Regions from separate parts of the Homo sapiens genome. Here region 1 is linked to region 2. The links come from fine-mapping of genetic effects on gene expression. A gene starts in region 2. The other region holds a variant in brackets. All regions are shown on one strand. Distances are from middle to middle.

Region 1 (2,910 bases), 35 kb after region 2:
TTCTTCTGGAATAATTACTGCTTGGAACTTAGCTGCCATGCCGTGAGGAAGCCCAACTCACATGGAGAGCTCTGCATGTAGGTGCTCAAGTCAACAGCTCCAACTAAGTCCAGTCTTCAAATCATCTCAAACCAGGCACCGGACATATGAGTGATGAAGCTTCCAGATGATTCCAGACCCTAGCCATTGGGGTCATCCCAGCTGTGGCCCCACACATTATGGGGCCAAAAGAAGCCATCCCCTTTCATAACTATGGACCCATGGAATCTATGGGCATAATGAGATGTTGCTGCTTTATGACACTAAGTGAGGGTTGGTTTGTTACACAGCGAAAGTAACCAGTGCACACCCAGATCCATCTCCTGCTCCCACATACACACAGCACAAATACTCTACCATAAATGTTCTTGTACACATTTTCTTATGATGTTGAATGAGAATGAGACACTGAGACTGCCCTTGGCATAGGTCCCAGGAGCAGAATTGCTTGGGTCTGCATATTCCTTTATTTATTTATTTATTTTTGTCACCGAGTGACAGTAGCCATCATGGCTCACAACAGCCTTGACTTCCTGCACTCAGGTGATCCTCTTGCCTTAGCCTCCTGGGTAGCTGAGACTACAGGTATGCACCACCACGTCTTGCTTATTTTAAAAAAATTTTTGTAGAGATAGGGTCTCACTATGTTGTCTGGGCTGGTCTCGAACTCCTGGGCTCAAGCAATTCTCCTTCCTAAGCCTCTCAAAGTGCCGGATTACAGCATGGGCCACTGCGCCTGACTAGGGTCTGCGTATTCCTAACTCTACCAAGTCCTACAAGTCACTCAGTGCAATGAATGTCCCTATTTGCTCACATATGAGGATTCCTGTGCCCCCAGTGCCCACTCCCACCTCTGGAGATTGTCCAGGCTTCTAGGATTTGCCCATCTCATGGGCATAAGGTGGTAGCTCATTGTTCTCCAACTACAAATGAGTTTGCACATCTCTTTTTTAGTTTATTTGGAAATCCCCTTCTTTAAATATCCTGTTCATAGTGTTTTCCCATTTTCTCATTGCTGTTTGTGCTTTTACCACCACAACTGTTGACTTTTTTTTTTTTTTTAGACAGTCTCGCTCTGTTGCACAGGCTGGAGTGCAGTGGCACTATCTCGGCTCACTATAAGCTC[T/C]GCCTCCTGGGTTCACGCCGTTCTCCTGCCTCAGCCTCCTGAGTAGCTGGAACTACAGGCGCCCGCCACCACACCCGGCTAATTTTTTGTATTTTTAGTAGAGACAGGGTTTCACTGTGTTAGCCAGGATGGTCTCGATCTCCTGACCTGTGATCCGCCCGCCTTGGCCTCCCAAAGTGCTGGGATTACAGGCGTGAGCCACCGCACCCGGCTAATTGTTGACTTTTTTGAACAGAGCCCAATGCAATTCCTAAAGGTATTTTAGCTCTTTCTGTTGCTCCAATAATATATTGTTAAATGTGAATAACATTTCTATAATACAAAGAGGATAGTATAACATGGTGCTCAGTAAATCTTGTATTGAACAGATGGAGGAAGAAAGGAAAGGAGGAATTATAACATCACACACACCATGCCAAGGGATGATCTTATGCCAGACATTGGCTAGAATAGCCTTTAATATATTGCTTCATTTAATCTTCACCACAGTCATGTAAAGCCAGCCCCATTATTATCTCTATTTCCCAGATGAGAAATCTGAGGCTGTGTGTGTGTGCACACACACGCAGGGTGGAAGGTCTTTTACAACTGGGAAGTGGTGAGACATCAATTTGACCTCAGGTCTCTGTGACTCCAAACCTCTGATTCTTTTGTTTGTTTGTTTGTTTGTTTTTGAGATGGAGTCTTGCTCTGTGAGCAGGCTGGAGCGCAGTCGCGTGATCTCGGCTCACTGCAACCTCCGCCTCCTGGGTTCAAGTGATTCTCCTGCCTCAGCCTCCCAAGTAGCTGGGATTACAGCCACCTGCCACCACGTCCAGCTAACTTTTGTATTTTTAGTAGAGACGGGGTTTCACCATGTTGGCCAGGATGGTCTCGATCTCTTGACCTCATAATCTGCCCGCTTTGGCCTCCCAAAGTGCTGGGATTACAGGCGTGAACCACCGTGTCTGGCTCCAAACCTCTGATTCTAACAGGGATACTAGGCAGACTTTCAGCAGCACCATCCCTCCTCAGCACTCATTCATTCATTTGTTCATTTAATCATTTAGCAAACACAAAGAACCCACACGTGTGGGATATGACTGTGACTACATCAGACCAGGGCCTGGCTGACATCATAGGGAGATCAGATATGAACCACTAATAACTACGAATTCATAATGATGAAAAGAGTGAATAAATTACTTCACAGACTTTCTGTGGATTTTCATGTGATGATGAAAAACAGTGAGCTGGGTCCCAATGTATTTCCTGGCAACTGGCCATGTTCTATTGTTGCAGAGAAGCAAGATATAGGATGAAGTGTATCAGTGATTCCATTCACACTAGAGCGGACCATGAAATATGGATTTCAACCTTAGTCAAGCCTCATCATGTTCCACCTTAGAAAATGCTAAAAAATGTTAACCCACTATTTGCAAAAGAAAACAAAAAGCTGGGCTGGGCGCAGTGGCTCACGCCTGTAATTCCAACACTTTGGGAGGCCGAGGCCGGTGGATCACCTGAGGTCAGGAGTTCGAGACTAGCCTGGCCAACATGGCGAAACCCCATCTTTACTAAAAAAGCAAAAGTTAGCCGGGCATGATGGTGGGTGCCTGCAATCCCAGCTACACAGGGGGCTGCGGCAGAAGAATCACTTAAACCCCAGAAAGTAGAGGTTGCAGTGAGCTGAGATCGCACCACTGCACTCCAGCCTGAGCGACAGAATGAGACTCTGTCTCAAAACACACACACACACACACACA
Region 2 (2,910 bases):
TGGCCTTCGGACCCCTAGAGGTTGAGGCTGTTGCCTCGGCAGGCTGCTGGCCCCGAGGGGCCTTCTGATCTGATGCCTCCCTTCTTGAGCCTGGCCCTTTCTTTGGCATCACCGGCTTCTTCCTGCCATCTTCTGAGTCAACCAAGACGTAGGAGACAGGGCCCAAGCTCACCTTCTTCTTCTTCCTCATGGGAGCGGGGTTCTTGGCAGACACCCAGGCCACGGCCTTCTTCTTTGGTGGGCTTTCATGGCCACCATCTTGGTCTGACTCAGAGGCGCCTCCTGGGCTCTCGGCTTCTGCCCGGGCATCCTGAGGTGGCTCTCTGGGACCCTTCCAGGCACATTTCGCCATGGGCTTCTTCAAAGCCAACTCCTCCTTATTCACACAGGGCTTTCTGCTGCCCTTGATCGGCTCTGAGATCGCCATGCTTTCAGCATCACCCACCTCAGGATCCTCCAAGTTAGCTGTGCTGTTGGAATTGATGCCTTTGGGTTTTTTCCAGGGCACTGCTTCCTGCCTGGAGTTCTTCTTCTGCTTCTTTCTCCTGGAGCGAGACTTAGCTCCAGCCCTGCGAACCAAAGGTTTGGTAGGCTCATGCTGGTCTTCCGTGGCATTCCAGTTGTTGGGGGTCTCTGCCTTTAAGGCAGAACCCACCTCTGCTGCAAGCCCCGGTTCTTTCTTCACCTTCCTCCCTGCTGCTAAAGCCCAGGCTGCCATCTCCTCGAATTCAGCGGCCTCCTGGGCCCTGGCTTCCTCCCGGCTGCGGATCTCGGCATCCATGCAGAAGATGATCTGCACCACTGCTCCCAGAAGCACCCCCAGAGCTTCTGCCCAGTTCTCTGGGGGCTGATGCTGGTTCTGGGACAGGGTGGGGTGGTTGAGCTGGAGCAGGCGGACCACATCCTCCCAGGTGCGCCCCTCGGCATCCAGGAATTCATTCAGATTTTTTAAAAACTCGGCATCCTGGGTAGGGTCTCTACAGACCACTCTCCAGACACCACCCCTTCCTGGGAATTCACGGGGGATGGTGCTCAGATTCACACCTTCACCAACCTCAATGAGGGCAGCTTTAACATTCTCTTCCCTCACAAAAATCTTGTTGAGCACGCGGTACGGGCCCAGTGGGGAGAGGACCCCATTCAAGGTCTCCTCAATTTCTGCCTGCCCACAGTCCTCTGGGATGCCTGTGACCAACAAGGACCTGTGGATGTCCACTTCCATTCCCCTGCACCAATCCTCCAGAAGGTTCATCGCCATGGTCTTGGACATTTAGCGGCTCTGAACCTACTATGTGTAGTAAATAGTCTATCAGGTGGACGTGGGCTGCAGCGGTCTCCAAACAGTAATCCTGCAAGGTGACAAGGGAGCGAGGTCACGTTCCCAGGAAGATGACCAAGCTCACAGATCCTAGCTGCCCCCTCCGCGGCTGGCCTGCAGGAGGCCTGGCGCTTTCCCAACACCCTCCTCCCCAACCCAGGCCCCGGTGCTCACACGTGTCCCTGAATCTGCAGCAAAAGGCCCTAGGACCCTCCCCCGGGCCTGACGCTCCGCCTGCCCAGCCGGGACTTACTTGGCAGATCAGCCTCCGACCGCCCAGCCAGGCCAAGGAGACGCAGTGGAATGCAGCCGTTTCCCAGTCGCTGGCTCCGGCTACCCCGGCGCCGCTGCTAGAGGCAGAAAGGGCCAAGAAGGCGCCGTCCGCCCCCGCTCCGGCCCAGGCGGGTCACGGGGCGTCCAGACTCGATGCCGTTAGCGGCGAGAAGCCGAGGTTGGCGTCGCAGCGCGCGCCTGCGCACTGGCTCCCGCACCGCCGCTCGGGGGTCTTGGGCTGCGCAGGTGCCGACGTCTCCATGGCAACCGGGCGTGGGTTGCTAGGGCTGAGCCCGGCCGGCGCGCCGGCGCTGCAATTGGACCTAGGGAGCCGGGTGCAAGAGTGGCCTGTTCAGGTCGCAGAGCAAGCGGGTCTGGATACACTCCGGTGGCGCCTCCACGGAGGCCCTCTTTCAACCCAAGTGGGCCTCGCGAACGGGGGTTAGGTCGATGAGAAGCGCCAACACCTATGGCTGCACCCACTGACTGTATTATCCTCTGCCCCACCTGTTGGATTCACCCAACGCAACTCTTGGGAGACACTAGAAATCAAGAAAGGAGGAAAACGAGGCTTTAATCTTCTTGGGTTCCTCCAACAGCAGGTGCAGTTCCTGTTGGGCTTGTAGCCTTCTCTCTTACAAGCTGCTGGGTTCTTCCAGGAATTTCCAGAAACTTCTAGAAATTTCTTAGTCTCCTCCCCGACCCCTTCTAGCATGAGGATAATGCCTCGCCTTTTCTTGTTTCCTCAACGTGATTCAGGGCAGGTTCTTGGCATCCTCCAGGCAGGGGACAATGTTACAGCTCAGTGACTGCCCCTACAGAGAAGTGTTAGTCCAAACTGCAACCATTTTGTAAGCCCTGACTATTTTGCAGATCTTGGTCAAAGTGAAATATTCCACGGGGGTTCGGGCCAATGAGAAACATCCTGCCTAATCACCTGACCACAAGGCGGACAAAGGCCCAGCTAAAGAAACATTATCATACCCTATCGTGCAAAGGCCCAACTGAAGAAACATCCCTATCATATTCTGCTGGGAGAAAGTGCAGAGAACACCACATTCCACCAGAACAAGGGCCAGAACCGCCTCATCATGGAACCATCTTATCAACATCCTGCTGGGCAGCAAACCATACTGCTCAGACCCCTCCCACCCATAACTATAAGTACCCCCAGCCTATAAGCAGCAGTGGGCTCTGGCATTAGGCTGGTTACCCACTTCCACAGGTGTCTGCAGTATACCTGAGTTGCTGTTGAGCCGCCTTCTGTCTGTGTGTCTTTAACCCTCACCTTCCCTCCAAAACCTAACAAGGAGGGCTAC

What was found. PIP is the estimated chance that this variant, and not a neighbour inherited with it, causes the effect. A credible set is the group of variants that fine-mapping cannot tell apart.
Region 1: its variant is the best candidate, but not a certain one, in a credible set for the expression of PNMA8A in ileum (GTEx, PIP 0.53).

Annotation. Positions count from the first base shown.
Region 1 is chr19:46,504,856-46,507,765 of GRCh38, forward strand. No RefSeq gene overlaps it. Among named protein-coding and RNA genes, the nearest start is that of PNMA8B, 10 kb to the left of the region's middle. The variant T/C (reference allele first, on the strand shown) is at 1,166.
Region 2 is chr19:46,469,766-46,472,675 of GRCh38, forward strand. PNMA8A (PNMA family member 8A) reads right to left here and starts at 1,798. Exons shown (of 3, transcript NM_018215.4): 1 at 1,572-1,798; 2 at 1-1,349. The coding sequence starts at 1,270.